Homo sapiens: one gene and its partner. The protein of the gene in region 1 interacts with the protein of each later gene in a pairwise test. Each region holds a gene or a part of one and is shown in the gene's direction. Other genes may lie near its edges. The genes, in order: ATP23 and HR.

Evidence for each region.
Region 2: the proteins of ATP23 (region 1) and HR interact in binary tests that used the Homo sapiens proteins (3 or more experiments, as listed by UniProt).

Annotation. Positions count from the first base shown.
Region 1 is NC_000012.12:57,947,690-57,963,798, forward strand, and holds the end of ATP23 (mitochondrial inner membrane protease ATP23 homolog), read left to right. Parts: intron 1-3,024; exon of another isoform or gene 3,025-3,195; intron 3,196-4,068; coding exon 4,069-4,206; intron 4,207-5,916; coding exon 5,917-6,000; intron 6,001-8,997; coding exon 8,998-9,201; 3' UTR 9,202-11,459; downstream 11,460-16,109.
Region 2 is NC_000008.11:22,109,604-22,121,010, reverse strand, and holds the end of HR (lysine-specific demethylase hairless), read left to right. Parts: intron 1-52; coding exon 53-295; intron 296-503; coding exon 504-669; intron 670-837; coding exon 838-907; intron 908-1,120; coding exon 1,121-1,251; intron 1,252-1,727; coding exon 1,728-1,847; intron 1,848-1,945; coding exon 1,946-2,061; intron 2,062-3,971; coding exon 3,972-4,136; intron 4,137-4,582; coding exon 4,583-4,711; intron 4,712-5,248; coding exon 5,249-5,311; 3' UTR 5,312-6,592; downstream 6,593-11,407. Other genes in the region: 8-oxo-dGDP phosphatase NUDT18, read left to right, coding at 10,858-10,862, 11,068-11,407. UniProt on the Homo sapiens protein: Histone demethylase that specifically demethylates both mono- and dimethylated 'Lys-9' of histone H3. May act as a transcription regulator controlling hair biology (via targeting of collagens), neural activity, and cell cycle.

The DNA of each region.
Region 1 (16,109 bases):
TATGGAATGATTATGAGAATTAAATGAGATATCTCTTATAGAGTTGCTTATCTTAGTGCCTGGCCCATAGTAAGCATTCAATAAATTTTATTATTAGTTTTAAGTCATCAGAGAGTTTCGACAGAGTCTTGGAGGTGGTAGATAATGTCATGTGATCAGGGTAAATGATGGTGTTATAAGTAACTGTTTCCCACTTGAATGTATAATTCATACTTAACTACACTTAACTGTTTCCTGCTGGATAATTTTGTATGTATTTAGGTTATTTATAGCATTTTTACAGTAATCATGTGAAGTGGCAATATAGAACAAGGATGAGAAGTCTAGATTTTGGAGTCAGACTTGAGTTCAAATCCTAGTTTCCTTGCTTATTATCTGTGGGGCTTGGGCAAGTTATTTTTCTTCTTCTCAGTTTCCTCATTTGTAAACTGGTAATCACAATACCTATAGCTCTCAAAATGGCTCTGGATAAGTTCACTCCCTTCTCGGTCCCCCCAGGGTTAAACAGAGTGCACATCTTGAACTTTCATCCTAATTCTCAGCAGTGTTGAACACAGTTGGGCACCCTCTCCTTTTATTTTATTATTATTTTTTAAATTATTATTATTTTTGAGACAGAGTCTTACTCTGTCACCCAGGCTGGAATGCAGTGGTGCAATATGGGCTCACTGCAACCTCTGCCTCCTGGGTTCAAGTGATTCTCCTGCCTCAGCCTCCTGAGTAGCTGGGATTGCAGGCATGTGCCACCATGCCCAGCTAATTTTTGTATTTTTAGTAGAGTCAGGGTTTCACCATATTGGCCAGGCTGGTCTTGAACCCCTGACCTCAGGTGATCCACCCATCTTGGCCTCCCAAACTGCTAGGATTACAGGCGTGAGCCACTGTGCCTGGCCTATTTTTTTAAATGAAAATTTTTATTATGAAGTATCTCATTCATACAGAAGAGTAAAACATCTATATGTACACTTTCAGTAATAATAAAGTGCACACCTATGTAACCACCACCCAGACTAGAGAAAAAGAACATTACTAGGACTTCAGAAGCCTTCGTGGTCCTCTTGAATCAGGTCCTTTTCCCTTCCTTATCCTGACTTTTGTGGTAACCATTCCCTGCTTTTCTGAATGGCTTTACCATCTACATATACAATCCAACAGTGTGTTATTTAGTTGCCTGCTTTTGAGCTTTATACATGTTATACTTTGAATTTTATGTAGCATTTTGTAGTATTATGAAATTGTACAGTATATAGTCTCCAATTACTTTCCACCTTCAGCATTTGTGAGATTCTTTCTTGTTGTTGTGTGTACCTCTCTGGTTTATTTCGTTTCCCTGTTATATGGTATTTATTCCGTTGTGTGTTTATACTATAGTTTACTCTAATATTGATTGTTTCCAACTTTGTTATTATGAACAATGCTGCTATGAATATTTTTGACCTTCGCTACTGGTGCACATGTGCAAGAGTTTCTCTAAGGTATATGCTCAAGAGCAGAATTACTGGGTCATATAGTTTGTATACACTTGACTTCAGCTGTTAATGCCAAACACTTTCTTTGGTTTCTAGTATACAGCACTCTTCTGGTTGCTCCTTTGCTAGCTTACCTTCCTCTACTAGCATTTAAATGTCAAAGTCCCTCAATCCTTGGTCATAGAGCCCCTTCTTTTCTTACTCTGCCAAGGAGGTCTCATCAATTTTCTGGGGTCAAAGCTCACTTTTAAGAACTCCACATTCCATATATCCAAGTGCCCATTTAACACCTCTACTTGAGCATCTTTTTATTTATTTATTTATTTTTATTTTTAAGGAAAAAAAGTTTTTTTGGGACAGGGTCTTGCTCTGTCGCCTAGGCTGGAGTGCAGTGGCGCAATCATGGCTCACTACAGCCTTGAACTCCTGGGCTCAAGCAATCCTCCCATCTCAGCCTCCTGAGTAGTTGGGACTACAGGAGTGCATCACTGGACCCAGCTAACTTTTAAAATTTTTTGTAGAGATGAGGTCTCACTATGTTGCCCAGGCTGGTCTTAAACTCCTGGCCTCAAATGATCCTTCCATTTCAGCCTCCCAAAGTGCTGGGATTACAAGTGAGAGCCACTGCTCCCCACCTACTTAAGGGTCTTAAGGACACTTCAGACTTGAAATGTGTAAGTCCAAATTCATGATTTTTACCATCCCCCATCTCCCCACTCAACCCAGTCTTTTAGTTTTGCATATCTCAGTGGATGGTGCTACCATCGACCCTATTAGCCAAGCCAGAAATTTATGGATCATCTTTGATACCCCTGATTCCTTCCCCGTATTCTATCAACATATTTTGTCTAATTTACCTCCTAAATAACTCTTTTGGCTTCCACCACCATTCTAGCTGAAGTGCTGTTCTCTCTTGCCTAGAATATTAGCCTTCAGCTAATTTCTCTGCATCCAGTTTTGGCCATCTCCTGCCTATTCTTCCAACTATAGTTAAAAGGATAAAAGCAAAATAAAACAAAAGCAGTCTTCTGTTTCAACATTCCCTTTATCCTGAGAGCTTCCCATTGCTCTTAGGGTAAAGACAAGGTCTTCAGGGATTTGGCCCCCCGACCTCACCAGCCGTATCTGTTGCCTACCACCCCCACCGCTGTGCTTCAACTCTAGGGCTCTCCTTTTAGCTTCTCAAGCATTTTCTTCCGTCAACCCTCCCTCTACGCTTTGCATAGGTTTTTCTCTCTGCCTAGAATACTCCCTTCCCCTCCACACCTCAAATTTCACTTCTATTCCTCCATTAGATACCAGTTTAACCATTCCTTCCACAGAGAAACCTTCCCCCACCTCCAGAGTAGGTCAGGCATTCTTTCTTTTTCTTTTTTTTTTTTTTGACACAGGGTCTCCCTTTCTTGCCCAGGCTGGAGTTCAGTGGCGTGTTCCTGGCTCACTGCAGCACCAACCTCCTGGGCTCAAGTGATCCTCCTACCTCAGCCTTCCAAGTAGCTGGGACTATAGGCATGTGCCACCATGCCTGGCTAATTTTTATTTTATTTTTTTATAGAGATGGGGTTTTGCTCTGTTGCCCAGGCTGGTCCCGAACTCCTGGGCTCAAGGAATCTGCCTGCCTCAGCCTCTCAAAGTACTGGGATTATAGGCATGAGCCACTGCACCCAACCTCATTGTATATGCTCATGACAACCTGGGTTTTTCTTCATGACAACTGTCATTGCATGTATGTAAACATTTTGGTAAATATTTGGTTAGTTTCTATCTCCATCAGTAGATTATAATCTATTATTAGGTCTCAATAAGTATTAGTTGAATCAATGGATGTTGAATGAATGTATATAAATATCTGGCACATATCCCAGTGTCTGGCAGTAGTACACAATCAATGGCAGCTATTACTATTAGGATCCCTTGTGTCTTTCTTATTCTTATAGGGTCCTGCTCAGTGTGCTGTTGTGTTTTGCACTTCTTTCTGAAGGTCTTTCTGATGAGTTTTCCCTGGCATTTGCCCTCATTCTAGTAAAATGAGGACAGTGGTGGTCATTCCTTTTTCATTCAATGCTCATTCAGAAACTTGATAAGAAGTATTTTACATATATTCTCATTTAATTCTCACAGTTCTATGAGGTAGCTACCCTAATTATCTCCTTTTTATAGTTGAGGAAATTGAGGTACAGAGAGATTAAGAAACTTGCCTAAGGTCACTGAGTTAGTAAGGGGTGGAGCTGGAATTTGAATCTGTGTGCTTCATTCCAAAGCCCACTCTCTTAACCATAATGCTGTGGAGTCCGAGACAGACTAGTACGATCAGCCCAGTAAGGATGGTGTGTGAATACGTGTCCTTAATCTAAGTACTGCTGTAGTCCAGAGAGAGGAGAAGGGAGAAGTTAGTCACTGGGCGAGGCAATTGGAGCATGTACACTTAGGACTAGGACTTGTCCCATGGGTAGATGTGTGGCCAATGAAGAAGAGTGGGTAGAGATATTCCAGGCAGGTGAGCTTGTGGGGGAGAGGTGAGGTCATGTGGGAGAGAAGATCGAGTCTATGGAAGGAGATTTTAGAATCACTGAACTTCTTTTATTTTGGTGTCTCCTAGATAGTTTTGTGCCAGAATAATATCCATAATCAGGCCCATATGAACAGAGTGGTCACACACGAGCTTATTCATGCATTTGATCATTGTCGTGCCCATGTCGACTGGTTCACCAACATCAGACATTTGGCGTGCTCAGAGGTGAGTTTTATTGTATTTTTCTCCAGAATACTCTATGCTTGAATATTTTATTCAAGTGTAATTTATTTAAATGTATTCCTTTTCTTACTGTCATAGTTCTACCTTAGTCTTGAATTTCGGTTTATAACTAACATTGAATACCATTTTTGATATACAGTTAGAGAAATTTAAAGTGTATTTTTAGAATTCTCTTAACTATATCCTGTAAGTCCTAGTAATAGTGATGACTGACTTTAATAAGCTATTAATTTTTTCCTATGGAATATATTTTATAATGTATTCCATAGGAGACATTAATAATAAAAATAAAAATAAAAAAATAATTAAAATTTACTGAGGGCTGTGTTCCAAACACTGTTCTGTTTGCACAGATTCTTATTTAATCTTCACAATAACCTACTGAGATAGATATTATACTATTATTGTCCCTGTTTTACATATGTGGAAAGTGAGACAGTTGTTTAGATTCCAAAGTTAGTAAGTGGTAGAGGCAGGATTACAACTAGTGTTTTTAACTAGCTTGCCCAGCTGCCTTCCATAGAGCTCCTTGCTTGCCCTAGAGTAAAACATGCTCTTTTCAAAAATACAACATAAAAAGATATTTATTACTAAGCACGTTGGATTGCTCTTGGAATATGCTCCTAGAGAGAGCGTATTCTGCATATGCATATACTTGGATGTCATTAATTGAAGAGTTAATTAAAATAATCTAAATCTCAAGCCTATACTATATAACTTCGATTATTTCCCTTTCTCTTGAAATTAATATGTAGCCCCCTGCATCTAATTATAATTCCAATTATTTGGAGAATAGACTGAAACCTGAATTTTTAAATAGGTCTCTTTCTTGGGTACTGTGAGAATTAATGCCTTTTAGCTAGTTAAAGTGTGTTAAGTACTTTGAGCTCCTCAGAGGAATGAGGCCATAATATTGAAGAAGGAACAAGAAGTGGGCCATTCTGTTAGCAATGAATTAGCAAAAATGTGGTCAAGCTGCCTGTAGAATCTATGTGGGTAGTTCTAAGACTTTTTCATTCATTGAAGTATAGTAAATCTGAAAATATGTCCTAATTTCAGGCTGTCATGCTCATAGCGTGACCAGTTTGGAATGTTCTTGATTCTTTGTGTTTTGTATTGCTTCATTTTTCATAGGACAATCAAGTCCCTAGAGGAAGGTCATGAACTTATATAGGTTTGAGGGAAGCTCCAAGGGAGATTCGGGCAAGGGTTGGGAGGGGCATATTCTCAAAGTGTCTCAGATATTAATGCATTCAGTTTTAAGGTCACATTGAAACTCAGTTTATTTCAAGAATGCTTTCTTGAAGTACTTTTGGCAATTTCTACAAGTATTTGTATCTTGTAGAGTGTGTAGTTTAACTCTGAGGTCTAGCTCTCTGACTTTTGGTTCCAAAAGAAATTAGTTCTGTCAGTAAAGCTACGCATAAAGTTTAGAAAATTTCCTTTGGTAGGCGATTGAACTTTTCCCCATCTCTCCAGTGTATTTGGCATTGTCTAGCATAGCTCATAGATATTTGCTCTCGTTGTCAATAGAGTTTAAAAAGTCCTTTAAGAAGAAGTGTCACAAATACTCTTTTCTCAGACAAAGATGCTAATTTTATATTCTTTTCTAATTTTTAAAAATTGGTTGATATCATAAAGATATATAGAGCATGAGCGTTTATTTCTTTTTATTTGTCTTCTGTGTGATAGGTTCGAGCTGCTAACCTTAGTGGAGACTGCTCACTTGTCAATGAAATATTCAGGTTACATTTTGGATTAAAACAACACCACCAGGTAAAAACTAATATGAAATCACTTCCCCTCCAGAGTGTTACGAGTGGAAATAATGAATAAAGAAATGAAAAGTACATTCAGTATTTGAAATTTGAAAGAACTTCGTATGTGAAAAGAATACAAAGTATGTACCATTTAAACAAAGTAGATGGAATTTAGTTCTACTTTGTAATTATGGGCAAGCTATGTGACTCAATGAGTGTGTGAGATAGTCTAATAATGAAAAGAGGCCTGGTGCGGTGGCTTATGCCTCCCAGCAGTTTGGGAGGCCGAGGCGGGCGGATCACGAGGTCAGGAGATCGAGACCAGCGTGGCCAACATGGTGAAACCCCGTGTCTACTAAAAATACAAAAAAATTAGCTGGGCGTAGTGGAGCACACCTGTAGTCCCAACTACTATGGAGGCTGAGGCAGGAGAATCACTTGAATCTGGGAGATGGAGGTTGCAGTGAGCCGAGATCATGCCACTGCACTCCAGTCTGGGCCACAGAGTGAGACTCCATCTCAAAAAAAAAAAAAAAAAAAAAGGAGCTAAGATCTTGCATCTGGGATACTTTTCGATGGGGGTGGATAAGGAATGGAAGTGAAATCACAGCATGTCTTACTGTTATTCTAACAATTCTTGACTTCTATTTTGAATCTACCATAGCATTCTGGAGACAAAAGATGTAATCCCTTTCAGAACAGAGAGTGTGTTGCTGCACAAGTTATGGCTATGTGTCAGTGTACCTGTAAAGGCTATATAATGTGATAGAAAACCTTTGGCTTAGCACAGACTTGAGTATGATGAGCTTAGCTGAGAGGGATTTGTGTGAACAAAACAAAAACAAAAAACAAAAGAGAGCTATAAGGCAAGATTATCCTGGTAGAAAGGCTTTGAGATCTGTATTAGGTGGACGTGGGGAAAGAAAGTATAGGACTCATGGATTGATAATGAATGTGAGCAGTTCTGCCTGGGCCTGTGTCCACATTTAGGAGAAAGGCTGGTCAGTCATTTTCTACAGTAAGAGCCTGCTGAGTCAGTTTGTGAAGTATATGAGCATCACGATATCAGTTCCAACTAGATGAAAAAAGATAGGCTTAGGACAACAGGAAGGCCCTTGGTTTTCTGGAGAAGAGAGTAACTCAACTCTGGAGTGGGGGGTGGAAAGTCACAGTGAGCTACTCAGAAATTGTGAACTTAGTGAATGGGAGGGAGAAGAAAAGCCTTCTGCCTGGAAAGGGTGATTACTCTAGACAGTGAGGTGTTCAGCCTCTGCCAGGTCAGCTTAGTGATATGCCAGTGACTTGTCTTGTGCTGCATGTTTTCTGTGCCCTTGAGTCCCTGCTTCTCTGGTGAATTCTGTGTGTTCTGGCTGTCAGTGGAGAGGGTGGAAGCAGGGTACACATCAGCACGCCCCTAGAGAAGAGAATAATGTGGTTAAAGCATGTGCTGGCATAGCTTATGGATATCTGCTCTTGTCAATAGAGTTTGAAAAATTCCTTAAAAAAAAAAACTATTACATATACTCTGTTTTTAGAAAAATATGCTAATTTTATATTCTTTTCCAATTAAAAAAAAATCAGTTGATATACTAAAGAAATAGAGCATGTTTTTTTTTTTTTTAATTCACCTTCTATCTTTGTGATAGGTTTGTGATGCACACAATCTTTGAAAGAGGAAGTTTTCCTCTTTTTACCATTGGGTAGCAGCAGCAGAAAACAAATAGAAACAGCAATAGGACAGAAAATAAGTGGAGGTAGTAGGAATCTGGCTGAGGGAGAAGAGTCTTAGAGAATGGAGTCCCTGCTTTTGTACAGCATGTACCCAGGAAATAGAAACAGCAAGTACAGTTACTGATTGTAAAATTGCATAGTCATATCTTTATTTTAACAGAAATTTATTATGTCTGAAAAGAAGTAAATCTGTGGTCTACACTTGTGTCTCCCAACCCTGTGGCTTCAGGAGACAAATTTTTGTACCTTTTTTCCCTGGAGGGGAGAAATTTCCTCTCTTTTTAGCAACTGTTGTTTTGGCTTCACATGGTTCTTCCTTTTCTTGTTCCTTTATGCCTGGGGTTTATTTTTTAAAATCAGCGTTTAGTAAAATTCAGGTTGAGAAACACTATATTCCAATGTTAGTGAATATCTCCAGCTTGAGCACACTGACCAGGCCAATGAAAAACTGGGAACATGTGGAGAAAACGGATGGCTGTCAGGATGCACAGCCATCCAAACCAGTGTTTGATTATTTTTAGGAAAAGGTCAAATGCCATTCTTTTGAGTTTTAGATTGGTCCTGGGGAGAAATAAATGGATTAAAAGCTCTCCAAGAATTGGAATGGCAGGGCCTTATATTTCTTAAATATTTAAATTAGAGTATTGAGAAATTCTAGCCTATTACTATGAAATGTTAGGTAAATTATTATCTTAGAACTTTAATATCTGTGTAAAGAACAATCAGGAAAAAAAAGTTGTTTAATTTCCACACCCCCTAAAAAATTAAGGTACATTCCAAGTTCGGGTGGATATGTGTATGGTTTCCTGTTGCCTCCAGAGAGGACTTACCCTTCTCAAAGGAAAAGTTATCTAGCATTGGTCAACTGAAAAGAAAGAGAGGTACAGAAGTGAAGTATATTTTAAATTTAATTAAATTTTATCAAAAAGTCAATCAGGACTTTATAGACTTTTTTTTTTTTTTTGGCGAGTTTGCAAATTGGGAGATATTGTTTGGCAGACACTGCCAAGAATTTCTGAGAATGACATCTGCTTATATCAGTGGGAAAGATGAGAAAATGGAGAAGGTCTTACTTATGCCTAAATAATTTTAGGTTGAGCTAAAAATACTCCTTAAGTGTTATGGATCTTTGTTCATTTTGTTTTCTTCTTTGGAATGACAGAAATTAGTAAAATAATATGAGGAAATTAATTTTAATTAATTCAGACATTAGATAAAATGTATTATTTCGTGATTAAATGTTTATATAAAATTAGAGCCTCATACTTTTCCTTCTTTTTAGACTTGTGTGCGAGACAGAGCCACTCTTTCTATCCTGGCTGTTAGGAATATCAGCAAAGAAGTAGCTAAAAAGGCTGTTGATGAAGTTTTTGAATCTTGTTTCAATGACCATGAACCTTTTGGAAGGATCCCACATAACAAGACTTATGCAAGATATGCTCACAGAGACTTTGAAAACCGTGATCGGTATTATTCAAATATATGAGCACAATGACATTTTTATATTACAGAGCTTCCATCATCATGAAGAAAAAAAAATTTGGTTCTCAAGTGAACAAACATATAAAATGTAAACAATCCCTACAATCCAGATAAAACAGAGAAGACTGTGATTCTAGCATATTATCAGAAAAAGTAACTATGGCAAAAAATGAAACTGCTTTAAACTCCAAGGCAGAAATTGTATCTTTATAGCTAACCATTTAGTAAATAAATACATTACATTTTTGTATTTTAGTCATTTGTTTTTATTACATGTGATTATTTTAAAATTTGATTATGAAACCTGTGAAGTGTGCTCTTCCATGATGTTGATAGGTGACCACTGTTGGTATTTACATTAAATGTAAAGAAATGTGTACTGATCTCATTGTAGGATACTTATTGAGCTGTTGTTATGATGAAAATTGGAAATAATTCATTCAGTGGTCAATGCTATCCTCTCCCTATTCTTCTTTTATCATATATGTGGGACCCATATGGCCTAATTTTCTGGGGACAGTCCTGGTTAGATCTTTTTCTTTTTAATAAAGGCAGTGCTCGAATTTTAGCTCCAGATCGACTGCAAGAACAAACCAGCAATACTGAGAGGACCCACAGACCCTCTGAAGGAAGCGACTGCTCCTACAGTGCCCAGGAGACACCCCAAATACTGTGAGTGCCCAACTGCAGAAGTGGGAAAGGGAGACCCTCCTCTCCCACACACACCCCCCCACTGGAGAAACTGAAGGTCTGTTTGTGGGAGAAGTTTCCGACCTTACCTGGAGCTGAGTTAATTTAGAGAGCCGAGCGAAATACAGGGGTAGAGCAAGCAGCAGGAAGGCCCAGGGAGCTCGCTGGGTCCCCAAGCAGCCCATTCCTGCCTGTCACCACAGAGATCCATTGCAAGGGCAGCCAGAAGAGCAGCGGGTAAAACTCCACAGGGAGAAGGACATCTCTAGCTGAACTTTGTAACTATTTCAATGGGGCAAGAAGCCTCCCGGCCAGAACTTGGGAGAGGGCACAAATCCCATGTGCAGAATCCACAGAGGGGAAGAACCAAGCTCTTTTCTTTCACAGCTGGGAGGTGGGTAGCCTGGGGCAAGTTTTCAAGCCTGTCTCACCCACCACCTGGAAGCAGACTTGGGGCTGTGGTGGGGGGCATGGTGGGAGTGAGACTGGCCCTTCGGCTTGTGTGGGAGCTGGGTGAGGCCTGTGACTGCCGGCTTTCCCCTACTTCCCTGACAACCTGCATGACTCCCCAGAGGCAGTCATAATCCTCCTAGGGACACAACTCCAGTGACCTGGGAATCTCACCCTCATCTCCCACAACAGTCACAGCAAGACCTGCCCAAGGAGAGTCTGAGCTCAGACATGTCTATCCCTGCCCCGACCTGATGTTCCTTCCCTACCCACCCTGGTATCTGAACAAAAAGGGCATACAATCTTGGGAGTTCTAGGGCCCCACTCACCACAAGTTCTTCTCCATACTACCACAACTGATGCTCTCTGGAAAGCGCTACCTCCTGGCAGGAGGCCAGCCAGCACAAAAATAGAGCCTTCAACCACCAAAGCTAAGAACCCTCATGGAGTCCATTGCACCCCCCCTGCCACCTCCACTGGAACAGGTGCTGGTATCCACAGCCGAGAGACCCATAGACGGTTCACATCACAGGATTCTGTGCAGGCAACCCCCAGTACCAGCATGGAGCTGGGTAGACTCACTGGGTGGCTAGACCCAGAAGAGAGACAACAATCACAGCAGTTTGGCTTACAGGAAGCCACATCCATCGGAAAAGGGGGAGGGTATACATCAAGGGAACACCCTGTGGGACAAAGGAACCTGAACAATGGCCTTCAGCCCTAGACCTTCCCTTTGACAGAGACTACCCAAATGAGAAGGAACCAGAAAACTAACCCTGGTAATATGACAAAACAAAAGCTCTTTAACACCCACAAAAAAATCACACTAGTTCACCAGCAATGGATTCAAACCAAGAAGAAATCCCTGATTTACCTGAAAAAGAATTCAGGAGGTTAGTTATTAAGCTAATCAGGGAGGCACCAGAGAAAGGCAAAGCCCAGTGCAAGGAAATCCAAAAAATGATATAAGAAGTGAAGGGAGAAATATTCAAGGAAATGGAGAGCTTAAAGAAAAAAGAATAAAAAATTCAGGAAACTTTGGACACACTTTTAGAAATGCAAAATGCTCTGGAAAATCTCAGCAATAGAATTGAACAAGTAGAAGAAAGAAATTCAGAGCTTGAAGACAAGGTCTTCAAATTAACCCAATCCAAAAAAGACAAAGAAAAAAGAATAAGAAAATATGAACAAAGCTTCCAAGAAGTCTAGGATTATGTTAAGTGACCAAAACTAAGAATAATCAGTGTTCCTGAGGAAGAAGAGAATTCTAAAAGCTTGGAAGACATATATGGGGGAAATAATCAAGGAAAACTTCTCTGGCCTTGCGAGAGACCTAGACATTCAAATACAAGAAGCACAAAGAACACCTGGGAAATTCATCACAAAAAGATCATTGTTTAAGTACATTGTCACTAGGTTATCCAAAGTTAAGATGAAGGAAAGAATCTTAAGAGCTGTGAGACAGAAGCACCAGGTAACCTATAAAGGAAAACCTATCAGATTAACAACAGATTTCTCAGCAGAAACCCTACAAGCCAGAAGGGATTGGGGCCCTATCTTCAGCCTCCTCAAACAAAACAATTATCAGCCAAGGATTTTGTATCCAGTGAAACAAAGCATCATATATGAAGGAAAGATACAGTCTTTTTTCAGACAAATAAGTGCTGGGAGAATTCACCACTACCAAGCCACCACCACAAGAACTGCTTAAAAGGAGCTCTAAATCTTGAAACAAATCCTGGAAATGCAACACATCAAAACAGAACCTCTTTAAAGCATAAATCACACAGGATCTGTAAAACGAAAATACAAATTAAAAAGCAAAAGTAAAAAACCAAAATACAGAGGCAACAAAGAGCATGATGAATGCAATGATACCTCACATTTCAATTATAACATTGAATGTAAATGGCCTAAATGCTCCACCTAAAAGAAATAGAACCACAGAATGGATAAAAACTCACCAACCAACTATCTGCTGCCTTCAGGAGACTCACCTAACACATAAGAACTCACATAAACTTAAACTAAAGGGGTGGAATAAAGCATTTGATGCAAACGGACACCAAAAGTGAGCAGGGGTGGCTATTCTTACATCAGACAAAACAAACTTTAAAACAACAGCAGTTAAAAGAGACAAAGAGGGACATTACATAATGGTAAAAGGCCATGTCCAACAGGAAAATATTACTGTCCTAAACATATATGCATCTAACACTGGAGCTTCCAAATTTATAAAACAATTACTAATAGACCTAAGAAATGAGAGACAGCAACACAACAAGAGTGGGGGACTTCAGTACTCCACTGACAGCATTAGACAGGTCATCAAGACAGAAAGTCAACAAAGAAACAAGGGATTTAAACTATAACTTGGAACAAATGGACTTAACCGATATATACAGAACATTTCATGCAACAACCACAGAATACACGTTCTATTCAACAGTGCATGGAACTTTCTCCAAGGTAGACCTTAGGATAGGCCATAAAATGAGCCTCAATAAATTTAAGAAAATCAAAATTATATCAAGCACTCTCTCTGACCACAGTGGAATAAAACTGGAAATCAACTCCAAAAGGAACCATCAAAACCATGCAAATACATGGAAATTAAATAACTTGCTCCTGAATGAGTATTGGGTCAAGAACGAAATCAAGATGGAAATTAAAAAATTCTTTGAACTGAATGATAATAATGACACAACCTACCAAACCCCTGGGATAAAGCAAAGGTGGTGCTAGGAGGAAGGTTCATAGCCCTAAATGCTGATATCAAAAAGACTAAAAGAGCACAAACTGACATTCTAAGGTCACACCTCAAGGAACTAGAGAAACAAGAACAAACCAAACCCAAACCCAGTAGAAGAAAGAAGTAACCAAGATCAGAGCAGAACTAAAGGAAATTGAAACAGCAATAACAACAACAAAAATACAAAAGATAAATGAAACAAAAAGCTGGTTCTTTGATAAGATAAGTAAAATTGATGGACTATTAGCAAGATTAACTGAGAAAATAAGAAAGAAAATCCAAATAATTTCACTAATAAACAAAACAGGAGATATTACAACTGACACCACTGAAATACAAAGGATCATTCAAAGCTACTGTGAACACCTTTATGCACATAAACTGGAAAACCTAGAAGAGATGGATAAATTCTTGGAAAAACACAATCCTCCTAGCTTAAACCAGGAAGAATTAGATACCCTGAACAGACTAATAACAAGCAGCGAGATTGAAATGGTAATTAAAAAATTACCAACAAAAAAAGTCCCGGACCAGATGGATTCACAGCAGAATTCTACCAGACATTCAAAGAAGAATTGATACCAATCGTTTTGACACTATTCCACAAGATAGAGAAAGAAGAAACCCTTCCTAATTCATTCTATGAAGCCAGCATCACCCTAATACCAAAATCAGGGCAGGACATAACCATAAAAGAAAACTACAGACCAATATCCTTGAAGAACATAGATGCTAAAATCATTAACAAAATACTAGCTAACTGAATTCAACAACATATCAAAAAGATAATCCACCATGATTAAGTGGGCTTCATACCAAGGATGCAGGGATGGTTTAACATACACAGTTCAATAAATGTGATACACCACACAAACAATTAAAAACAAAAATCATGTGATCATCTCAATAGATGCAGAAAAAGCATTCAACAAAATCCAGCATTGCTTTATGATTAAAACTCTCAGCAAAATGGGCAGACAAGGGACAGGTATGTCCCTTGTAATAAAAGCCATCTATGATAGACCCACAGCCAACATAATACTGAGTGGGGAAAAGTTGAAAGCATTCCCTCTGAGAACTGGAACAAGACAAGGATGCCCACTCTCACCACTCCTCTTCAACATAGTACTGGAAGTCCAAGCCAGAGCAATCAGACAAGAGAAAGAAATAAAGGGCATCCAAATTGGTAAAGGGAAAGTCAAACTGTCACTGTTTGCTGGTGATATGATTGTTTACCTTGAAAACTCCAAAGACTCCTCCAGAAAGCTCTTAGAACAGATAAAAGAATTCAGCAAAGTTTCTGGATACAAGATTAATGTACACAAATCAGTAGCTCTTCTATATACCAACAGCAACCAAGCAGAGGATGAAGTAAAGAACTCAGCCCCTTTTACAATAGCTGGGGAAAAAAAAAAAAAAAAAGGAATATATCTAACCAAGGAGTCAAAATAGCTCTACAGGGAAACTACAAAACACTGCTGAAAGAAATCATAGATGATACAAACAAATGGAAACATCCCATGCTCACGAATGGGTAGAATCAATATTGTGAACATGACCGTACTGCCAAAAGCAATCTACAAATTCAATGCAATCCCCATCAAAATACCACCATCATTCTTCACAGAATTAGGAAAAGCAATTCTAAAATTCATATGGAACCAAAAAAGAGCCTGCATAGCCAAAGCAAGACTAAGCAAAAAGAACAAATCTGGAGGCATCACACTACCTGATTTCAAACTATATTATAAGGCCATAGTCACCAAAACAGCATGGTACTGGTACTGGTATAAATAGGCACATAGACCAATAGAATAGAATAGAGAACCTAGAAATAAACCCAAATACTTACAGCCAACTGATCTTTGACAAAGCAAACAACATTAAGTGGGGAAAGGACACCCTTTTCAACAAATGGTGCTGGCAGAATTGGATAGCCACATGTAGGAGAATGAAGCTGGATCCTCATCTCTCACCTTATACCAAAATCAACTCAAGATGGATGAAGGACTTAAACCTAAGACCTGAAACTATTAAAATTCTAGAAGATAACATTGGAAAAATTCTAGACATTGGCTTAGGCAAGGATTTCACGACCAAGAACCCAAAAACAAATACGACAAAAACAAAGATAAATAGCTGGGACCTAATTAAACTAAAGAGCTTTTGCATGGCAAAAGGAACAGTCAGCAGACTAAACACAACCTACAGAGTGGGAGAAAATATTCACAGTCTATACATCTGACAAAGGACTAATATCCAGAATCTACAATGAACACAAACAAATCAGTAAGAAGAAAACAATCCCATCAAAAAGTGGGCTAAGGACATGAATAGAAAATTCTCAAAAGAAGATATACAAATTGCCAACAAACATATGAAAAAACGCTCAACATCATTAATGATCAGGGAAATGCAAATCAAAACCACAATGCAGTACCACCATACTCCTGCAAGAATGGCCATAATAAAAAAGTCAAATAACAGTAGATGTTGGCGTGGATGCGGTGATCAGGGAACACTTCTACACTGCTGGTGGGAATGTAAAGTAAAGTATACAGCCACTATGGAAAACAGTGTGGATATTTCTTAAAGAACTAAAAGTAGAACTTCCATTTGATCCAGCAATCCCACTACTGGGTATCTACCCAGAGGAAAAGAAGTCATTATTCAAAAAAGACACTTGCACACATATGTTTATAGGAGCACAATTCACAATTGCAAAATTGTGGAACCAAGCCAAATGCCCATCAATCAACGAGTGGATAAAGAAACTGTTATATATATATATGATGGAATACTACTCAGCCATAAAAAGGAATGAATTATCAGCATGTGCAGTGACCTGGATGAGACTGGAGACTATTATTCTAAGTGAAGTAACTCAGGAATGGAAACCCAAACATCATATGTTCTCACTGATATGTGGGAGCTAAGCTATGAGGACACAAAGGCATAAGAATAATTCAATGGACTTCGGGGACTTGTGGGGAAGAAGAGGAGGAGGGCCGAGGAATAAA
Region 2 (11,407 bases), on another chromosome or scaffold:
GCCCTCCCTGTGGGGCCCAGTGGGTCCTAAGCCCCTGTGCCCCTCTCTGCAGGATGACCGCATCACCAACATCCTGGACAGCATTATCGCACAGGTGGTGGAACGGAAGATCCAGGAGAAAGCCCTGGGGCCGGGGCTTCGAGCTGGCCCGGGTCTGCGCAAGGGCCTGGGCCTGCCCCTCTCTCCAGTGCGGCCCCGGCTGCCTCCCCCAGGGGCTTTGCTGTGGCTGCAGGAGCCCCAGCCTTGCCCTCGGCGTGGCTTCCACCTCTTCCAGGAGCACTGGAGGCAGGGCCAGGTGAGGCACCCCTCCCCTCCCCTCCCGGCCCTGGCCACCCCACCTGCCCCTCGGGGCCTTGGTCCCTAGGCCCAGACAGACCCAGTGGCTCAGGGGGAGCAGGAGGGCTGTCCCCGAGCTGTTCTACTGCCCTTACAACACGCCCTTGCCTGGCCATGGCGGGCACCCTGGCCATTCTCCTCATGGCCTCCTTCCTTTCCCACCACAGCCTGTGTTGGTGTCAGGGATCCAAAGGACATTGCAGGGCAACCTGTGGGGGACAGAAGCTCTTGGGGCACTTGGAGGCCAGGTGCAGGCGCTGAGCCCCCTCGGACCTCCCCAGCCCAGCAGCCTGGGCAGCACAACATTCTGGGAGGGCTTCTCCTGGCCTGAGCGTAAGTGTCCCCAACACAGGGGAGAGGGAGCTGGGAGCCCAAGCCCTAGGGATCGGGTGGCAGAGGAGTCCCAGGGTGACCCCGAGGGGCTGGAAGCAGGTGTTGCTGCCGCCGGGGCAGGGGCTTCAGGGCTGAGGAGGCCAATGGCCGTTCTGTCTCCTCCTGTAGTTCGCCCAAAGTCAGACGAGGGCTCTGTCCTCCTGCTGCACCGAGCTTTGGGGGATGAGGACACCAGCAGGTGTGTATGTCACCAAGGGCCAGCCCTACCTCCCCGCCACCGCAGGCCCCGCCTGGTTCAGCCCTCCCCTCCTCCTCTGCCCCCAACCCCCACCCCGTGGTCCCTGGTACTCTCATGTTTGCCCTCTGGGAGTTACCCCGGTGGTGGTGGGGCTTTGATGGGGTCTCTGGTGCCCAGGTTGGGCCTGCTGGGCATGACCCCCTACCCTGACAGGGTGGAGAACCTAGCTGCCAGTCTGCCACTTCCGGAGTACTGCGCCCTCCATGGAAAACTCAACCTGGCTTCCTACCTCCCACCGGGCCTTGCCCTGCGTCCACTGGAGCCCCAGCTCTGGGCAGCCTATGGTGAGTGTCCCTCCACTCCTGCCCAGTCTCTACTCCCATGCCTGTCTGCCTGTCATCTCGGGGCACACGAGCGTCTGTGCCAAGGCCCTGGGGCCTGAAGCGCTTCTCTGATTCCATTTCTTTCTTTCTTTTTTTTTTTTTTTGTTGTTGTTGAGACGGAGTTTTGCTCTTGTTGCCCAGGCTGGAGTGCAATGGCACTATCTCGGCTCACCGCAACCTCCGCCTCCCAGGTTCAAGCAATTCTCCTGCCTCAGCCTCCCGAGTAGCTGGGATTACAGGCATGCACCACCACGCCCGGCTAATTTTTTCTATTTTTAGTAGAGAGGGGGTTTCTCCATGTTGAGGCTGGTCTCAAACTCCTGACCTCAGGTGATCTGCCCGCCTGGGCCTCCCAAAGTGCCAGGATTACAGGCGTGAGCAACCGCGCCTGGCTCTCTGATTCCATTTCTAACTGTTCTTTCTCTATTGCCATGCAGGTGTGAGCCCGCACCGGGGACACCTGGGGACCAAGAACCTCTGTGTGGAGGTGGCCGACCTGGTCAGCATCCTGGTGCATGCCGACACACCACTGCCTGCCTGGCACCGGGCACAGAAAGGTAGGTCCTCGGCCAGAGGCAGGAGCGGGGACAAGCTACAGAGGTGAGTGTTTGTCGCCACCAGCCCTGGGCCTGCCTGAGCGCTCTTTCCTCCTCAGACTTCCTTTCAGGCCTGGACGGGGAGGGGCTCTGGTCTCCGGGCAGCCAGGTCAGCACTGTGTGGCACGTGTTCCGGGCACAGGACGCCCAGCGCATCCGCCGCTTTCTCCAGATGGTGAGGAGGCAGCCGGGAGCCCTCCCCTTCCCCCCGCCCAGCCCTAGAAGCTCGTCCAGTCCCACCCCAGTGTGCGGTCCCATGTGCTCGCTCCCTGCCCCACGCCCTCAGGTGAGCTGCACAGACCCAACTCGCACAGACAGGTGCAGAGAAGGCAGAGGGGACCCGGAGTTCTGCCGTGGGGCTCAGAGAAGGGGCAGGGGCTGCGGCAGGAGAGCCTGGACCCGATGATGAAATGAGAGCACCAGCTGCCCGAGGCTGGACGTGGTGCTAGGGCCTTAGGCACAATTATCTGTTACCCGTCTCAGCCCCCCGCCCCATGAGGCAGGCACTGCTCCTTTCCCATTGGCAGATGAGAACACCGAAGCTCAGTGGCAGGGCTGGGATCTGAGCTTCTGTCTGTCATGGCCCCAGGTCACTACTCTATGCTCTTCCTGGAGGCAGGCAGCCTCCTCTGCCTTCTGAGACTCCGTCCGGCTGCCCACCTTTTGGTATTTGCATCTTGTTAGGGGAGACTGCCTGGAGGAGATGCTCCCGGAGGGGCTAGCAAGGAAGGGGGCTGAGGGAAGTGGAGGGAGAGATGGGTCAGGTGAGGAGCCAGGGAAGGGGAAGGTGATGGGGTGGGCTGGAGGCAAGAAGCTTGAGGCGCAGGGGAGGAGAGAGTCCAGGGGTAAGGCGAGGGCAGCCCCGTGGTTCCCAAGTCCAGCTGAGCCCTCATTATCCTGGGGAAAAGACTTCCACCTAGTGTCACCCCTCGCCAAGGCACACACACACACGGAGACGTGCAGAGGCCAGCATGGTGTGCACCCCTCCTGCCCACAGGTACACACATGTGTAGATACACACACAGATGCTGGGACACGCAGAGGGGAGCAGACAAGCACACCTCCACACACAGATGGCCTCTTCTGGGCTGGGTGTGGCTGGCCGTGGGCAGTCACTACGGCCCAACCCAGTGACTCACGGGGCAGGGCTGAGGGGCACAGTCTCCCTGGGTGGCCTGGGAAACACTGCTCAGCTCCAGGATGGAGCTGAATCTCCAAGGGCAAAGGAATCTTGGCACCCAGCTGGGACTCCCCTAGGGTCCAATTTGCTTCACCAGCCTTCCCTTCCCCCACGCCCCATCTTGCAGCCCTAAGCCCAGGGGCAATGGCTGAGGTCCTTGCCAAAGGGGGTGGATTGGGCTGGTGGTGGGTTGGAGCACGATGCTGGCGTCCCCTTTGCACATGTTCCCTGGGCACCTCTGTCCTCTGCGAGTCCCTGCCTGCCCAGAGAGCTCCCTGCTCTGGTTAGGCTTGTGAGGTCCCCGTAGCTGTGGCTGCTGCAGAGGCCTCAGCCTGGCCGGAAAGCCTGTTCACCTGCTGGCACTCAGAGCCTCGCAGTGGTCCTTCCCTTTTCTGCATCCGGAATCTTAGGGAGACCCTGATGAACACTTTGAGTTGTCTCCCCAGGGACACACAGCTCTCTCCTCATCCACCACTTAGCACACAATTCTGGCCATTCCAAAGACTTCAGATGAAGAAGTCCTGGTAGACAGTTTATGAACTGGGATTATGCAGGACGTCTCCCTCGGATTTGCAGAAAGGGGTACCATTGAGAGAGGGAGGAGAGGGGCCGAGGTCACAGAGGCTGTTAAAGGCCTCCAGCCCCAGAAAAGCAGGGATTCAGTCTGCCCAACTGTAGGGCCTTGAATCCCTTCCTTCTAAGCTCCTTCCAGCCAAATGTGTGTTCTGCCAACCTGAGCTGCCCCAGCCCCAAACAAACTCAGCCATGCCCTCCCTGCCTGCCCTTCAAGACTTGACCCTTCGGCTCTTTTCTCCACCCCTGGCCTCTGGAAAGTCCATGCCCCATCCTCCTGCAGCCCTGCCCTTCCCTCCCCATCTCGCTCATTCCCCCTTCTCTTCTTTGAGGTGTGCCCGGCCGGGGCAGGCGCCCTGGAGCCTGGCGCCCCAGGCAGCTGCTACCTGGATGCAGGGCTGCGGCGGCGCCTGCGGGAGGAGTGGGGCGTGAGCTGCTGGACCCTGCTCCAGGCCCCCGGAGAGGCCGTGCTGGTGCCTGCAGGGGCTCCCCACCAGGTGCTTCCCAGCGGGCAGGGGCTCTGCGGGGAGATCAGGATGGCAGAAGCGACCCAATCAAGGCCGCAGGCATCCAACATCCCCTCAATACCCAAGAGCCGGGCAGGGCAGGGAGCCGCACGCTGCTGTGGGGAAGAGATAACGGGGGAGCCAAGAGGCCTTGAAGTCACTGAGCCCAACTGGGACTGGCGCCAGAGTCCACTCCTGGTCTCCTGGGCATGCTGATGTCAGGGGGCTCGCAGGGAGACTTTAGGGTCTCTCCAGCAGTTCTGAGTCCCGGTTTTGGCCACAGGCTTTGAGGTGTCCAGTGGTGCATCCAGGAATCTGCTCTCTGAGAGCCAGGGGTCGGGGGTGGTTGTCATTAGAGGAAGCGAACCTCAGGGACCAGGGGGACAGGGAGAGGATGTGTGATCTTGAGCCTCACTGTCCATGTCCCCCCGACACAGGTGCAGGGCCTGGTGAGCACAGTCAGCGTCACTCAGCACTTCCTCTCCCCTGAGACCTCTGCCCTCTCTGCTCAGCTCTGCCACCAGGGACCCAGCCTTCCCCCTGACTGCCACCTGCTTTATGCCCAGGTGAGTGGGATGTGGGCCAGCAGGCTGGGTGTGCTACCCAAGCCTCCCACCTCCCTGTGCCACAGCTGCAGTGGACATAGCAGATCCCACCCTGTGCCAAGCAGGCAGCCACCCTGTGCAGGGGCAGAGTATTCCTTTTGTTTAGTTTGTTTCATTTTGTTTTTTGAGATGGAGTCTTGTTCTGTCACCTAGGCTGGAGTGCAGTGGCACTATCTCAGCTCCCTGCAACCTCCGCCTCCTGGGTTCAAGTGATTCTCCTGCCTCAGCCTCCCAAGTAGCTGGGACTACAGGCGCCCACCACCATGCCTGGTTAAATTTTTTTGGGATTTTTAGTAGACGTGGGGTTTCACCATGTTGGCCAGACCGGTCTTGAACTCCTGACCTCAAATGATCCACCTACCTTGGCCTCCCAAAGTGCTGGGATTACAGGTGTGAGCCACCGCATCTGGCCAGAGTATTCCTTTTAAGTAGGGTGGGGGACAGCGGGTGGGCCCAGGAATGTAGTTGAAAATGCTTTGTCCTCTCTCTTTTTCCTAGATGGACTGGGCTGTGTTCCAAGCAGTGAAGGTGGCCGTGGGGACATTACAGGAGGCCAAATAGAGGGATGCTAGGTGTCTGGGATCGGGGTGGGGACAGGTAGACCAGGTGCTCAGCCCAGGCACAACTTCAGCAGGGGATGGCGCTAGGGGACTTGGGGATTTCTGGTCAACCCCACAAGCACCACTCTGGGCACAAGCAGGGCACTCTGTTCCCCTCCCCCTTAAGCCAACAACCACAGTGCCACCAAGCTCACACCTGTCCTTCTCAGGCTGGCATCTCCCCCACCCTGTGCCCCTTTTCATGGTACCAGGCCCGCACTGGGGGCAATTGACTTCCTCCAATCCCCACTCCTCCGAGACCCAGGAGACAAACAGCCCTTCCTTGGGGAAACTTGGGAATCATTCTGGCTTAAACAACACCTCCTCCTGCTGCTCACTCCCGCTGAGCCCACTCTACTGCCCCAGCTCCGTTTCTACCACCGCATCCTCACTGGGCTCACTGCAGGCATGCTGAACAAGGGGCCTCCAACCTTCTGCCCTCCTGCCAAAAGATCTGGGGAGTGTGAGGAGAGGGTGGCATCAGGAGCTGCTCAGGCTTGGCGGAGGGAGCGGCATGGGCGATGTCACTCAGCCCCTTCCCGGTCCGCCCGCTTCCCTCCTTCATGATTTCCATTAAAGTCTGTTGTTTTGTGACTGCTGCCAGTGTGGTTGGCCCTGCCCCTGCAGGCCACATGGTCCAGGGAGGGAGGGGGACATGGAAATCTGCCTTAGAGACAAATGGAGTAGGGCAGCCCGGAGCTGGGGCCCAAGGGACAGGACACCACTGCCTGCTCTTCGTCTGGGGCCTGGGGCCTTGCCTCCCACTGAGGAGACTTTGGGTGGGGTGGGGGGCTGTCCCCCAAAGATGCTCCTGAGTGCAAGAGCAGGCAAGGCAGAGTCCTGGGGCACAGCCACGAGGTGACCTCCCTGTGCAGAGACTCCCGAGCCCTACTCCACCCAGCAAGCTCCAGTCCGCCCCATCTCTCCCGTCTACCCTGACCTGGAGATCCAGAAGTATGGCCCAGAAGAGCCCTTGCCCCGCCTGTCTGCCCTTGGTGGCAGTGGCCATGGCCGACGCCAGGCCCAGCCACCCTGGGACTGAGCCTGACTGCTTCAGACAGCCGACCCCTCCTTGTCCCCGCTCCACGCCCGCAGCCTCCTGGTGGCGCTCCGCCCTCTCCCGCTTCCTTTGTGTATCTCAGCCCTACAAAGAAAAACACTCCCACTCTTGTCATACCTAATTGTTCCTGCTGTGGTTTGGGGAATTTTTTTTATTAAATAAAGTTTTTTATTATAAGGGTAATATACTTTCAGAACATTCAGAAAATAAGAAAGTCACCTTCTAGCCCATCATTACACACCTCCAACTACTATGAGTATTTTGGCATATTCCCTCCCAGTGCTTTCCCCAAGGATTTGCTGTGCACATAGCTGGATTGCTGTGTTTTGTCCTTGGTTTCTTTCTTTCGACACCATATCATAATCATTTTCTGTGTTGCTACCTAATCTTCATTTTAAATGACTGCTTATATTCCATTAAGTGGCTTTGCCATGATTTACAAAACTATGCTTTATTTAAAAAAAAAAATGTAGGGCTTCTTTCATTGTTTGGAGAACTCAGTTATTTTCATTTTTTTATGGGATAAAGAGGAGAAAAGAAAAGAAAAAACTGAGAACTCTACAGTTTACTTTGCTTTTGTTTTCATTTAATTTATCTCATCTGGCCAGGCGACGTGGTTCACGCCTGTAATCCTAGCACTTGGGGAGGCAGAGGCGGGTGGATCACTTGAGGTCAGGAGTTCAAGACCAGCCTGGCCAATATGGTGAAACCCTGTCTCTACTAAAATACCAAAAAAAAAAAAAAAAAAAAAAAAAAAAATTAGCTGGGCATGGTGGCAGGCGCCTGTAATCCCAGCTACACGGGAGGCTGAGGCAGAAGAATCGCTTGAACCTGGGAGGTGGAGATTGCAGTCAGCCGAAATCATGCCACTGCACTCCAGCCTGGGAGACAGAGCAAAACTCTGCCTCCAAAATAATAATAATAATAATAATAATAATAATAATAATAATAATTTATCTCATTTAATCCCTTTTATTAAAATGATCTCAGTTAATCCGTTATCAGGATTTTAAGACAGATAGGATTTATTTCCATTTTACAGAAGAAGAAACAGGCAAGCTACAATTAAGTAAATTACCCAAGGTCGCATAGCAATTTTAGTGGAAGAACTGGGATTTGAACCAAGTTTTCTGAGTCAAGACACCTTGTGTACATTATAGTCTTAACTCTTAGTGGAATTTAAAGACAGGCTTGCCCTCCTCTCTGTCCTTCTTCTTCCAATGTACGTGCTTTATAGCTGATCATGTTCCAAGTGGCCCCGAATGACCCATTCCTACCTACGTTTCATCTTTTGTTTGAGACAGGGTCTCACTCTGTCACCCAGGCTGGAATGCAGTGATGCAATCTCAGCTCACTGCAACCTCTGCCTCCCGGACTCACGCCATCCTCCCACCTCAGCCTCCTGAGTAGCTGGGACTACAGGTGCATGCCACCATGCCTAATTTTGGTAGTTTTTGTAGAGACAGGGTCTTGCCACACTGCCCAGGCTGGTCTCGAACTCCTGGGCTCAAGCAATGTGCCCACCTTGGCCTTCCAAAGTTCTGGGATTACAAGCGTGATCCACCATGCCCCACTTCATCTTCTGTAGCCATGTCCTGATGTCACCTCAGAACCCCAAATCTGGAGTATTTCCTGTGGGAAGATGGTTCTCTGAATTTTACCCATTGGGGTGGGAACAGTGCACCACTAAACCTCTGTCTTCCCCTCAAGACCTTATCTCCTCTTAACCGCCTCTGGCCTTCCAGGTGGGTCACAATGCCCTTGAGGACATATTTGGTCTCTTTGTAAACAGAAGTGAATCAATGTTCATTTGTTCCAGCACTGTTCCTGAGAATGCAGCCGGACCAGGTAGGGACTGACTCGGAGACTCGTCTTGGGGCACTCTGTGGCACTGTTCCTCAGAGACCCTTGGGCCTCTGCTGCTCACAGGGTCTACCAGCTGTGCTCTGCCTGCAGCCCCTCTGTCGCTCAGAAATCCCAGACATACAACCAGCCAAGCTGGAAGTGAGCGCAGGGTTGCATACCCAATGCCTTCTTTCCTTTTCTCTGATAAAATTCTCAGACTTTTTATTTTCCCTTTTTACCCAGGAGCATAGATTCGAGTTGCCCTGAATATACATGCTCAGGCTTTTTATTTTGAAATAATTTTAGATTTACAGCTGAGTCACAAAGATAGCACAGGAAGTTCCCAATTATCCTTCACCCAGCCTCCCCTATTGTGAACATCTTACATAACCATGGTGCCTTGATCAAAACTACGACATTAATATTGATACCACACTACGAACGAAGCAACAGGCCTCACCAGGATTTCACCAGTTTTTTCATGAATGCCCTTTTTCTGTTCCAGGATCCAACCATGCCTGCATTTGACAGATGGCCTGGAGGGTAGATGTGGCGTCCCCAGGGTCCCTCAGAGAGCTAGCCTGTGGCCAGCCCTCCCTCTCCCGCTGTAGCTTGGGTTCCTGCCCTCCTCACCTTCCTACCTTGTCAAGACACAGGCCTTGTTGCTCTGTCCATGGCTCTAGCATCACAGATGCCCTGATACAACCTTGCCCTGCCTGTCCCTATCCCCATCCCCATCCCCATGGTCGCCTACCCAGGCCTTCCTGCTCCTGTGCTCCCCCCATCCCACCCCCACCGCACATGCGCACATATGCCCTGAAACGGCTGGCTCTGGCTTGGCTCCCAAGGGTGCTGGGAGCATTAAGCTACTCCCATTCACCATACTGTGCGGCCCGCCACACTGGCCAGGGTTCTTCCCTCTCTGTGACTGGAGGACACACAGTTGACTTGATGGGGACACTGGTGGTTCCTATCTAGCCTCCCGTCCTCCCTCAGCTGCCTCCCTTGTCTCAGGGCCTCTCCAGCCTCTGTCTCACTGCTGTTCTCTCCCAAGGCCTTGGGAACTCCTGCCTCTTTGTTGTCTCAGCACTCCCTTCACAGTTTACAAGAGGCTTTGGGGGAGGGCTTTACCCCCCGGGATAATGGGAGGCGTGGAGCCACGGTTTGCTGCGGTCTTTGCTCTCTGGGCAGTGAGGCCTTCTGTTGTTTACCTTAGGCTGCCTCTGAAGCTCCCAGATCCCTGCCTAGACATGATCTCACTCTCTCAAATCATCCCTGCGAGGCAGACAGGAGTCTGGGTCCAACTTCCCCCACTTCACAGGTGGGAAAACTGAGGGATTCACACATGTGTGTGCCGCAAGACACACACACACACACACACACACACACACACACACACACACACAGAGCAAATATGTTGACAAGTTGCTCTGCAGTCCTGGGGTCCTGTGCCTGCAGTTATTTGGAAGGTGAGAGGTCCATGATAGGGCCTGGCCCAGCGGCGTTCAGCAAGTGCCTCAAAATTCATGGGCCTTCTAGTGATATCCCACAGCCTAACACAGGGCCCTGCCTCCAGGGAGCCTGTGGTCAGTATCAGCAGGTGAGAGGAGCCTAAAGAGATGCATCCTGCGTTGCTGAAGTTCCTGAGTCCAGTTCTAAGGCAGCTCTACAGGCACATTTCGCCAGGCATGGTGGCTCATGCCTGCAACCACAGCACTTTGGAAGGCCAAGGTGGGAGGATCACTGAGGCCAGGAGTTCAAGACCAGCCTGGGCAATACAGCAAGACCCTCGTTTCTACAAAGAATTAAAAATTAAAAATTTAGCCAGGCGTGGTGGTGCACACCTGCAGTCCCAGCTACTCAGGAGTCTGAGGCAGGAGGATGACTCGAATCCAAGAGATCAAGTCTGCAGTAGGAGCTGTGATCACGCCACTGCACCTCCAATCTGAGCAACACAGTGAAACCCTGACTCTAGGGGATAACAAAAGTCACATTTCATGAGGGCAGGCCTTGCGTGTGGTAGCAAGAGCTATGGTGGAGAGGGACCACCCCTGAGGGTTGGTGGGCTGCCTGGGGACGGTGCCCAGTGCTGGACAATCCACACAGCTCCTCTCCAATTGTTGTGGCTTCCCAACACCCCTGTAAAAGAAGAATTGCTATGATCCTGCTCTACAAATAAGAAAATTGAGGCCCACAGCTCACCCAGGAGCACAGAGCAAGCCAGTCAGCAGTGGCTGGCCATCTGGCTGCAGGTCCTGAGCTTTGTCCACACCACCAAGCCACAGTCTCCCTAGCAGGGAGGCGCACAAAACTATCAGAGGCAGAGGAAAGGGGTGGCCTCTGCCAGGTGAGGAGCCAGACGGCCTGCTTCGCAGATCCCTTCCAGCTGGCTTTGCCTTCCAGTGCTGAGGTGGGGTGAAGGAGGAAAGGCCGAGCTGGGAGAGGAGCAGGCGCTCGCCACAACCACCCCCACCCTGCTCTCCACGCGCCAGGTCCTGCACGCTGGGTGGGAGGGTGACGACAAGGATGGAGGAGCAGGGCCCCACCCCCGCCCTCCCAGGGCGCACCATCTGCAGCAGAGAGGGCCTTGAGCTGCGTGGGAAATGCGGTAGGCAGAGGGACACTGATGAGGGTGGGCCGGCTGACGGCAGCCTTCTCTCAGCCCCGGACCCCTCCCGCCATCCCCAGCCCTGCCCCCTCCCTCCTTCCAGCGCCTGTCACTCTTCCTGCCCAAACCAAGCATTTAGCACTTAGCCTCGAACCCTCAGCTGACTCCTCATCTAGGACTCCGTCCATCTCTCCAACTATTGCAGAATCTCCTTCAAGGCAGGGGTTTATGTCCCCCACCCCACGGGCCATGTGACATTTATAACTCTTTGGTGGAATGAGAAGAAAGGTATTTGGGATATGATCAACTCCGGCAATGCCATTGTGTGTTTACGGCAACAGCGGGACAGTGGTTCCAGGGGGCGGCCCCGGGCCTCCGTGACGTCACCGGATTGTCGCGTCACCGTCGCCTACCCCGGCGGCGCAACGCGCCCTGCAGGAAAGATGACGTCACCGTCGGAGCTCCTGCAGACCAGTGCGCGCTCGGGGAGTTGGCGAGCGGGTGGCGGCTGGGAGACGTCCCGAGCGCACGGGACTGACAGGCGG